Regions from separate parts of the Homo sapiens genome. Here regions 2 and 3 are each reported to be linked to region 1. The links are microRNA targets in miRTarBase. Many come from high-throughput screens and were not tested one by one. Region 1 holds a microRNA gene; each other region holds the end of a gene's coding sequence.
What was found. Region 1 holds the annotated microRNA hsa-miR-4447 (GGUGGGGGCUGUUGUUU, at 1,694-1,710, opposite strand). A microRNA usually pairs through its seed, bases 2 to 8, with sites in the 3' UTR of a target mRNA and lowers its output. Matches are read on the target gene's strand: a 7mer-m8 pairs with bases 2 to 8, a 7mer-A1 pairs with bases 2 to 7 and ends in A, and an 8mer does both.

Region 1 (3,172 bases):
TGTGCTGAAAATGAGCTTTGTAATGTTAAACAAGTCAACCTCACTGTGTCTCTTTCTATGGATTCCAATGTTTGTGTGTTCTGCTTCACAGAGTAATTGTAAGGATCAAATGAATCAGTTAACCAATCAAGCCGAATAAATTGAGCACTAACGATGGCTTTAGCAGTGTGCTGGTTATTCTCAAAACTTAGATGTAAGTTGTTGCCAGACCCATCTTCAGAAGCTATACCTTTGCTTGTGCACACACTAATGAACTTGTACTAGTCATGATGTTCTTGAGCTAGTAATAATGCTCTAGCAAAAATAAAACGTACTTTCCACATTCTGAGGACATAATCCAAAGTAGCCTGCAATAAACACAGGCTAAACACTTTTTTAAAGATTTGCTTTTAATATTCAAAATTCCCTCAGAAGCATGATAAACAGAACACACATTTATAACTTTTCCTTCTGAAAATTTACAAAAATTAGAGTAAAGAAGTTAAAAGAAAAAAAAAAATCCTTCAATGCCTAAAGACAAAGAGAACTATAAACCAAAAATAAAATTCTAAGTCTCCTCAATCATCTAAATGGACCCCTCCTCTCGTCAAGGGCATTCCAGAGTTAACGTGAAAAACTAATACAGGCCATGATGGAAGAGGGGGTCAGACATGCCTCATTATATCCTCCTCCCTTTTGGAATTCAGGAAAAGCCAATCAGCATTAACATCAACACAGACTTTAAATGTGATAAGAAACATTTACATTCTTTTCTCTCTGAAGCCTGCTACTTAGAGGCTTCATCTGCATGATAAAACCTTGGTCTCCACAACCCCTTATTCTAGCCCAGCCATTCCTTTCTATTTATAATAGCTCTTTCAGCAAATTACCAATCAGAATATCTTTGAATCCAGCTATGATTTGGAATCCCCATCTCTACCTCACCCCCACTTCCAGCTGTCTCCACTCTTCCAGATTGAACCAATGTAAATCTCACATAGATTGCTTGATGTATTATGTCTCCTTAAAACGTATAAAGGCAAGGTGTACGTCAACCACCTTGGGCACATGTCAGCACCTCCTGAGGCTGTGTCATGGGCGTGTCCTTAACCTTGGCAAAGTAAACTTTCTAAATTGATTGAGACCTGTCTCAGATACTTTTTGGTTCACAGAAAAAACAAGAGACCAAATAACTGCAGTTAAGATGCATCAAGAAAATTTTGGAAGCTGGAAGCAGACAGACAATTCCTAACTGAGTTTAAAGAGAAAAGAAGAGTAAAATTATTCATTATAGAAACGAAGAAACCAGTTGATTTCCACCACAGAATTCAGGAAAGCTTCTGGACTTATAGACAACAGATACATCTAAAGATTCAATGGTGATAAAGATGTAAAGATTGGTTGAAAGCTGGTATGTGGTTAGAATCCTGCATCAACTCCTGCATAGTATGATAACTGCACTCCTCTTCTGGTCTCCCTCATACACAAATAGACACATGCCAGAAGAGGACAAGCCTCTTATTCAACATTGGAGAGATTGAATAACAGGGATTACTTTAGAACAGTAGGTCTCAACCATGTTCAATTTTGCTTCCCAAGGGATATTTGGCAATATGCCATGAAGACATTTTTGGTTGTCCCAACTTGTGGTGGGGTGTTTCTGGCATCTAGTGGGTAGAAGTCCAAGAAGGATTCTTCTAACATCCTACAATGCAAACAACAGCCCCCACCACAAACAATTATCTGACCCCAAGTATCAGTAGTGCAAATGATGAGAAACCATGCTCTAGAACACCAGAAAAAGCTGAGGATGGGAATGAAATATTAAAATCAGATGAATAAAATGAATATTACACACCGAACTGTGAGATCTGCATCTTGAATTATGAGGTCTTCCCCTTCCCTTTATTCACCTAGTTGTATCTCTGAGAAACCCAATCATTTGCCTTATATATTCCAGGCAATAGATCTGAGGCTTCCTTTTTGAGGGAAATCACTGTTTAAAAGAAAAGACCTGTGGATGCCCATAGCAGGGAGGTCTCTCTCCAGCTGACCACTCTACAGTGAAGCCTGCCATGCTAAGCCATCTCCAGTCAGAATTGTAGAATTGTGATAACTTGTTCCTAAATATAAATGCATAGCAAAGGATTAGCAGATATTAAGGAAGGCTTATAACATGAAAGTTATACCCCTGATATGGTTTGAGTTTGAGTACCTGCCCAATTCTCATGTGAAATTGTAATCTCCAGTATTGGAGGAGGGGGTCTAGTAGGAGGTGATTGGATCATGGGGCCGTTTCTAACGGCTTAGCACTATTTCCCTAGAGGTGTCTTCTGATAGAGTTCTCCCCAGACCTGCTTGTTAAAACGTCTGTAGCACCTCCCCACTATCTTCTTCCTCCTGCTGGCCACATAAGATGTGCTTGCTTCCCCTTTGCCTTCCACCATGATTGTAAGTTTCCTGAGGCCTCCCCAGAAGCAGAAGTCTGTACAGCCTGTAGAGCCATGAGCCAATTAAACCTCTTTTCTTTATAAATTACCCAGTTTCAGGTATGTCTTTATAGAAGTGTGAGAAGAGACTAACACAATACCCAAACAGAGAGACCAAAAAAAAAAAAAAAAAAAGAAAAAAAAGAGGAGAGAGAAACTCAAAATAACCATAGATAATATAAATGAAATTTCTTAGGAAGATTAACTAAAAAATCATGAGGTTTTTAATAACTGCCGTAAATATTCACCAGGGCCTACTTTTGTAGCTACTACTTTTTTCTTGTTATTTCCTACATAAATATTGTTTATATTAATTTATATCTCATTCTACAGAGAATTTCATCCAAGTATTTTGTACAAGTAATTAGAGAAATATGTATGCAATATAGACAGGCACAAAAGGAAAATCAGTACAAAAAGAAAATAAAAATACCATGTTAACCAAGTCAACAGAGAAGTTATAATTTAACTTCAAATTGACTTCAGACATTCTATAATTTCTTCAATAATTTGTTAGAAATGAATGAAAAAGGGAGGTTGTGAATAACTGTAACATGGAATTTCTCCTCTATCCTTTCTCATTACATTAGCTTTTTAAAAAAACCAGAAATCTGAATTTTTATAGCTTGTTTTGGTGTAGGACTGAGTAACAAACTTTCCCAGGTTATTTAAAATGTGATTGACTTTACACTATTCCACTTTCA
Region 2 (3,172 bases), not on the chromosome of region 1:
AGCAGAAGAATGAGGGCCTCTATTTCAAAGCCTTCCTGTCACCACAGGTGCAGATTTTTTGTCATTTTGGGAAAAAAAAAACTATCGAATTTTTGTAAAATTAATTTTATTTCAAAATGACTGAGGGGGTTTATATAAATAGCTTTCTTGATGATTCTTTTGGTAAAGTCAGTACTTCTTTAATAGCTAAGATATCAGTTGTGAATTGACCTTGTGGGTTCATTAGGAGGATTACCGGCTGGGCTTGCTACAGGAGGCCCCCCTGTAGTGAGGCATTTCCTCCCAGTGGCTTTCCAACTGTGTCCCATGAACCTCTGCTGGGGTGAAGTATGGGAGAAAGGGCAGGCCAGTCTGGCCTTCCTCCTCTTCCTCCTTCTCCTCCCACCCCTGACTCCCCACCCAACCAACTCTATTGGTTTTCCTGCCAAAAGGCATTTACCTCCCTGCATTGGTGACTTTGCCTCCTGGGGCTGGACTCCTGAAACCCTGACCTAGGCTTCAGGCCTGCTTCGATTCAGTTGTGTCTGGCATGCTGTCAGTGAGACCTAAGCCTGCCGTCTCCAGGAAATGCACTCTGAGGACAGCAAAGGGCAGCTATGCTTTTTTAGACACATTCCAAGATGGAAGGGACAGTGGGGGAGAAGCAGGTGCTGCAGAAGTTGACTCTGTCACTCCTGATTATTTTAAAAGGCCAGTTTGGGTCAAACTGGTCTTTGACTTAGGAATCCTGCTGCCCAGAGGGGCTCGTGTTCTGGTCTGGTAGTTGGTGGGACTTTTCCTCCTTTAGGCTCAGAGATCCTTTTTCTGTCAGGGGCTGATACAATGGAAATTTTTCCAAAAAAAAGTTTATGAAAGTTGGAGAATTTTAGTGGTAAAAATGGGAGATTGGGAGTAAACATAACATATCAAGATATTGAGGCAGGAAAAAAAAAGGGGTGAGATGGGTCATCCATGCATCCCAGCTACTGTGAAACTGCATTCTAGGCTTTTGAGGTGAGCTTCCTCAACTTATATCTACATAGCATATCTTTTAAAATAAAAAACAGACGTACCTGTCTAGGCGCACCCCTAGGAGTTACAGGGGACAGGCGTTTGGTGGACCAAGTTGCGTGAGACATACAAGTGATTGATCTCATGAGATCTGGGGCGGGGGATGCAGGTGGCTTGGCAGTCAGGCAGGAGTGAAAGGAGCTGTGTGTGTTGAGAGTGACACAGAGTCTAGGGTTTCCTCTCCTTGAAAGAGTTCATTCCTTAATGGCAAAGGAAAATCCTGGTCATGTCAGTAGGTGAAGGTGGCCAAATTAGCAAAGACGTCTGTGGTGAGACCACCTCTCCCAACCCGTGTGGCTTGCAAAATGATCATTCAAACCAGGACACATGTAAGTTCCACTCATATGTGGGAGAGGGAAGGCGAGCCTGTTTTTGCTGAGTCTCTGATCTAGGCGGTCTCCAGAGGGCTATGTGGGTTGTACTTCTTCGATGCCCATGTGAGAGTCACCACAGCCTGAGACACATAAGGAGAATGCAGTAGTGCCAGCCTGTGGCCTTCTGTTCTGGGTTCTGCAGTGTGTGTGTATTGATTGGGGAATGTGGGTAAGAAAACCCTCGCCGAAATGTGTTCTCTCTGCAGTGCTGATGCGGGGATGGGGTACCAGAGAGGAGTGGATGGGCCACAGGTAGGAAAACAAAATCTGTTTTGAAAAGGTATAGCTTCAGGAACTCACCTGGCCCCACTCGTGTCCTTGGGGTTTCTGCATTGAGCCTGGAGGCCACCCATACCTTGCCAGGCAAGCCCAGTCTGCCCTGAATCTGGGGTACCAGACCTGACTAATGAGATGTCTCCCTTCTGTGCTGAAAGGAGGCACACAGAACTTGTTCTGGTTTTTTGGGGTCCCAACACAGAACCGAGTCCTTACGGATGAGGTGGCCTGGTCTGCTCTTGGAGAAGCAGGGTGGCAATAGTCGACAGGGCCAGTATTCTCAGATGACCATTGTTCTTTCTGGCTGTGGGATGTGGGGTTGTGACCACCCCCGAGACTCGGCCTAAGGCAGGGAAGGATATAGTTGGACCTCGGAGAGCATCTTTCTGCTTACTAGCATTTGAGATTATAAAATTTTTTTTTAATCAAAAATTTCCAAAATAAAGTGAGTGATTTCCCCATCCCCCAAGATGCAGTAAGTCTTGTTGGCTCTCCCTCAGGCTTACAGCAAGTCAAATGGAAAGAAAAGCAAGAAGCAGCTGCGAGGGAGAAGATGCGGTCCCACGCGAGGACGGATGGGCTTTCAGTTCGGGAGGGAGGCCCCTGCTCCTGGTCGGCCTCTGCTTCCGGGCCACTCCGTCAGGGCAAAGTCTGGCTGGGTCTGGCAGTAAGGGACAATGACTATGTGAAGGCAACTGACAGAGGTGTCTGCTTGGAGAGCAGGATCCCTTGGTTCCATGATGTCCCCAGGTCACTCGGTGTGCAGCTTGGCACAGAAATGATCCCTTTACACAGCAGCATATGTTCTCATCGTAGCTCAAGGCATAAATCATACTTCCTAACGAAAAAACCCCAATCTTGGTAGCAGCGCATACCTTATACTAGGAAACTTGCAAGGAGACCAGTGTTGAACCACAAAGCGAGTACAGGTTTTTGCTTTTGTCTGTAAAAATGTACAGCGTACCTGCTTGAGGCTGCAGTGTCAGGACTAGGGGGTGTTCCTTGGCCCAGGGCTCTGCTCTGGGCCCTTCATACCTCACCCACCCACACCACTGTGGTCCCCCCCTTTATACCTGACACCTCACACCGCAGCGTGTTTTGTCTCCCATTGATGAGGAACAGTGACTCTCGGGCTGGTGTGAGGAGGTACTGTCCAAACAGCCCACTGTCCCTCATGATTCTGTGGGTACCCCCCCAGGGCTGAGCTGGCCCTGCGGGTGGCTCCTTTAAGTTCTTCAGCATGCCCACCTTCCCCGTGGACAGCTCCAGGAACAGCAGGTCCGGCTCCGTGTGCAGAGCCGCGTAGATGTTGTATTGATTGCTTTCAGTGAAGGAGCGCTGGAAGGCCAAGTCTGAGATGCCCGAGTTTATTTGCAGGTCATACAGGGTCTGGATCTCGCCCCGCACTGTGATCTCCTGCACGTGCAGCCAGGGGCTGTCAGCTGCAGCACTGACTATGAAGCGCCCGTCGG
Region 3 (3,172 bases), not on the chromosome of region 1:
TTCTCCATGTTGGTCTGGCTAGTCTCGAACTCCCGACCTCAGGTGATTTGCTCGTCTCAGCCTCCCAAAGTGCTGGGATTATAGGCGTGAGCCACTGTGCCTTGGGCTGTGCATTCTTATACTGGCCATACCAGGCCAGTATAAGAACTGCTTTTATTATGTTCTGCTTTTATTATGCTGTACCTGTGTCTGTTCTCTGAATTCCTTTTTCACTCTAACACAAAATTTTCATTTTACTGTTTTATAACAGTTTTACACAGATACTTCTGCCTCCCCTTTTAAAATGTCCCTCTTTGAAAGCACAGGCCTTACTCTGTTTTATTTTTCACAGCCCCAGCAGAGAATTAAATAGCCATAGAGTACTCAATAAATATTTGATTTACATAGTACTATCTCTAATTTTGTTTCATTATTGTTTTGAACCTTTTATATCCCTTTTTATAGCTCATGTCAGCAGCCACGTGGCACTTTCCATTTGGATGACGGTGAATACTGGTCCAACAGGGCAGCCTCTTATAAGGGAAAATCCCACCGACCCATCTTTGAGAACAGCATGGACAAGATGTACAGGAACTTATACAAAAAGGCCTGTAGTTCTGCTTCACATACACAGGAAAGCTTCTGAGACCATCCATGATAAACCTCATTAGTGTCCGTGTCAATTTCTCAATGAAAATGTTTGATGTGATCAATATCTGTATTCCTTTTTTTAAAAAAAATGGGATTATAACTAAGTACAATAGTTATACTTGAATAAGTTCATTACTTCAAATGGTAAATTATCATAGGCAAGCCTTTTAAAATAATTATTACAGAAGAGTCTGCTGTGTTACAAACATTAGAGCTCTGTCACACAATCACAACTTCCAATATGTGACAAGGATATTCTGTTACATGTACACCTCATATTCCATCTGCAAATCCAAGAATAGTTCCTTTCTAGAAATGTTTTTTTTGCCTTACTCACCTTGCAATTTTCTTCTCATCTACTTAACTGGTTATCTTGCCTGTGTAAGATTTAATTAATATTGACTACCTTTTCTTGGTGATGAACAAAATGATATCCTATACAGAAATGAATTTCCTAAGGGTTTAAACCCTGTTTTCACTAACATTTTCTACTTTTTCCTTTTTCAGAACAGGCTATTCTATTTCTTAGCTCATAGGCTTTCTTTTTAAAGACTATATGATCATTCACTCCTTTTTCTCTGGAAGAACTGTGTAAGTTGCTTAAAATGCATAGCAGTTAGCTAGAAATATCAGTGCCATGGATGATCAAAAATTTGAATAACTAATTTTTAAAGATAAAATTCTTTGCATGATTTTTTTTCTAGGGCCATACCTTTTGGTGCAACCAGAATCAGAAAATGGCCTCTGTTAGTAAGCTTATAGAAACCTAAAAATAATAATGGAATTATATTGTAATTTGACTGCTTGGAATTTGTGTAAGTACCATATGGCCCAAGGCACTATTATAGTATCCTCACTTTAAAAAAAAAAACACTTGGAACCACAATGTGAGTAAAATATTATAGCAGAACGCTTTGTGGTAGACACTGAAAATGTTGTTGATTGATGGATAGAATTAACTTCTCCTCCCCCACCCCAGCACACACCTGTGAAGCCAATGATACTATAAAGACATAAAGAAATCAGCTACTTTATATTTAATAGAGAGTGAGGGGAGGGAAAGGAGAGTGTAGGAATAAGTGAACTGGGCTTATAGTCTTGAAGAGTTGCCTAAAAGATAATATTTTCTCATTGACTCTGTTTTTGATTAATTTTACAGTTATGATTGAAAAAGAACAAAATGAACTTCCTTTAAAATGAAATTAAAATGTGAAACTTGCTGACTTATTTTTGTAGTAGAACTTGTTAACATCATGTTAAGGGTGCTTTAGTATCACAGTCTGTGATATATCAGAAAGGGCATTAGAGCTATCTCTATGAGCCAGGAGTCCTAGGCTTTAGTATCCCATGTCTGCCGTTTTCTAGCTGAGTCTATTTAATTCTCAGATCCTTTGTTTCCTCAGCTATCAAATGATAAGAATGTAGTAGACCCCAAACTATGTTCTGTGGACCAAGATCACTGTTTTAGGAGATAATCGTAGGAATGTAGGTATAAGTATGTAATTGGCCATCTAAGTTTAGGAAAATCTGTTTGCTACACACATACACACACACACACACACACACACACACACACACACACCTCTTAGAGAGTCATATGTAGGATTATAGAGGTAAAAAGAGATGATATTAATGCTGGAATAGCGCCTGTAAACTGGGGCTGTCTACAGCAAATTAGGATATATGGTCACTGTGCTCATTGTGAACAGTAGCTTGTTCGAGGCTTTAAGAAAATTCTGGTATAAATCTGTCTTACTCTGCATCTAGTAGACAGCCTGGCATGTAATTGATGTTCCTTAAATATTTATCGAATTAACCCAGAATTTTCTAAACTAAATTTAGCATGTACCACTATTTGTTATTCTTGCCACCACCCCCCATTCCCCTAGCTCCTCACACTACCTGCCAATGTCATCCTAAGGTACATGTGGATACCTAGGTTGTAGAAATGCTGGACTACACAATTGCTGAGTTACTCTCTGGCTGTAGATTATATGATGAGGTATTTTACAATCAGCTTTTGAAGGTCAACATTGAATAATGCTCTTTTAAAAAAATTATATCCTCAGTGTTTTTCCATGGAAAAATAAGTGAAAATTCTTTTAAGAGTTGCTGTTTGGTGAAAAGAACAAACATGACTTTCAAAGAAAATGTTTTACTATCACCAAAATCTCCCAAGTGAATAAGTACCACAGAAATTACTTATTGCACCTGTATCTGCCATTGGCTGTGAAAAAGGCTGCAAAAAGTAGGGCTGAAAGGGAAACTTTAGAAACTAATACTCTGAAAGATGTTTTCCTATGGATTAAATTTAGTGTCTTTCTGAAAGTTGGGGGCAAATTCCCAGATACTAATAGCATCTTTGCTAAGTGTCTGATTATCTTCTATCCCCTAGGAGGAAAGAGTGGTCCATGTTGCTGTAACTACTACTATGAGTGCTTATGCTGTATTGTTTTTAAAGAGTAAAACCTTTAAGTACTAATAGTTGTCTTTTCTCATTCACAGGAGCAGAAAGGTGCAGTTGTTTATTCTCTTAGCCTTT

Region 2: the mRNA of FSTL4 is a reported target of hsa-miR-4447. Seed matches in the 3' UTR shown: 7mer-A1 at 2,013-2,019 and 7mer-m8 at 633-639.
Region 3: the mRNA of SPATA6 is a reported target of hsa-miR-4447. Seed matches in the 3' UTR shown: 7mer-m8 at 1,598-1,604.

The regions. Positions count from the first base shown.
Region 1 is chr3:116,848,596-116,851,767 of GRCh38, forward strand. It overlaps MIR4447 (microRNA 4447), which reads right to left and starts at 1,772; the gene lies at 1,682-1,772. RefSeq lists enhancers at 194-828, 829-1,464.
Region 2 is chr5:133,196,366-133,199,537 of GRCh38, forward strand. FSTL4 (follistatin like 4) reads right to left here. Exons shown (of 16, transcript NM_015082.2): 16 at 90-3,172. The coding sequence ends at 2,730. Among named protein-coding and RNA genes, the nearest start is that of CTB-49A3.2, 9.9 kb to the right of the region's middle. RefSeq lists an enhancer at 3,136-3,172.
Region 3 is chr1:48,296,166-48,299,337 of GRCh38, reverse strand. It overlaps SPATA6 (spermatogenesis associated 6), which reads left to right. Exons shown (of 13, transcript NM_019073.4): 13 at 445-3,172. The coding sequence ends at 625. Among named protein-coding and RNA genes, the nearest start is that of SLC5A9, 75 kb to the right of the region's middle.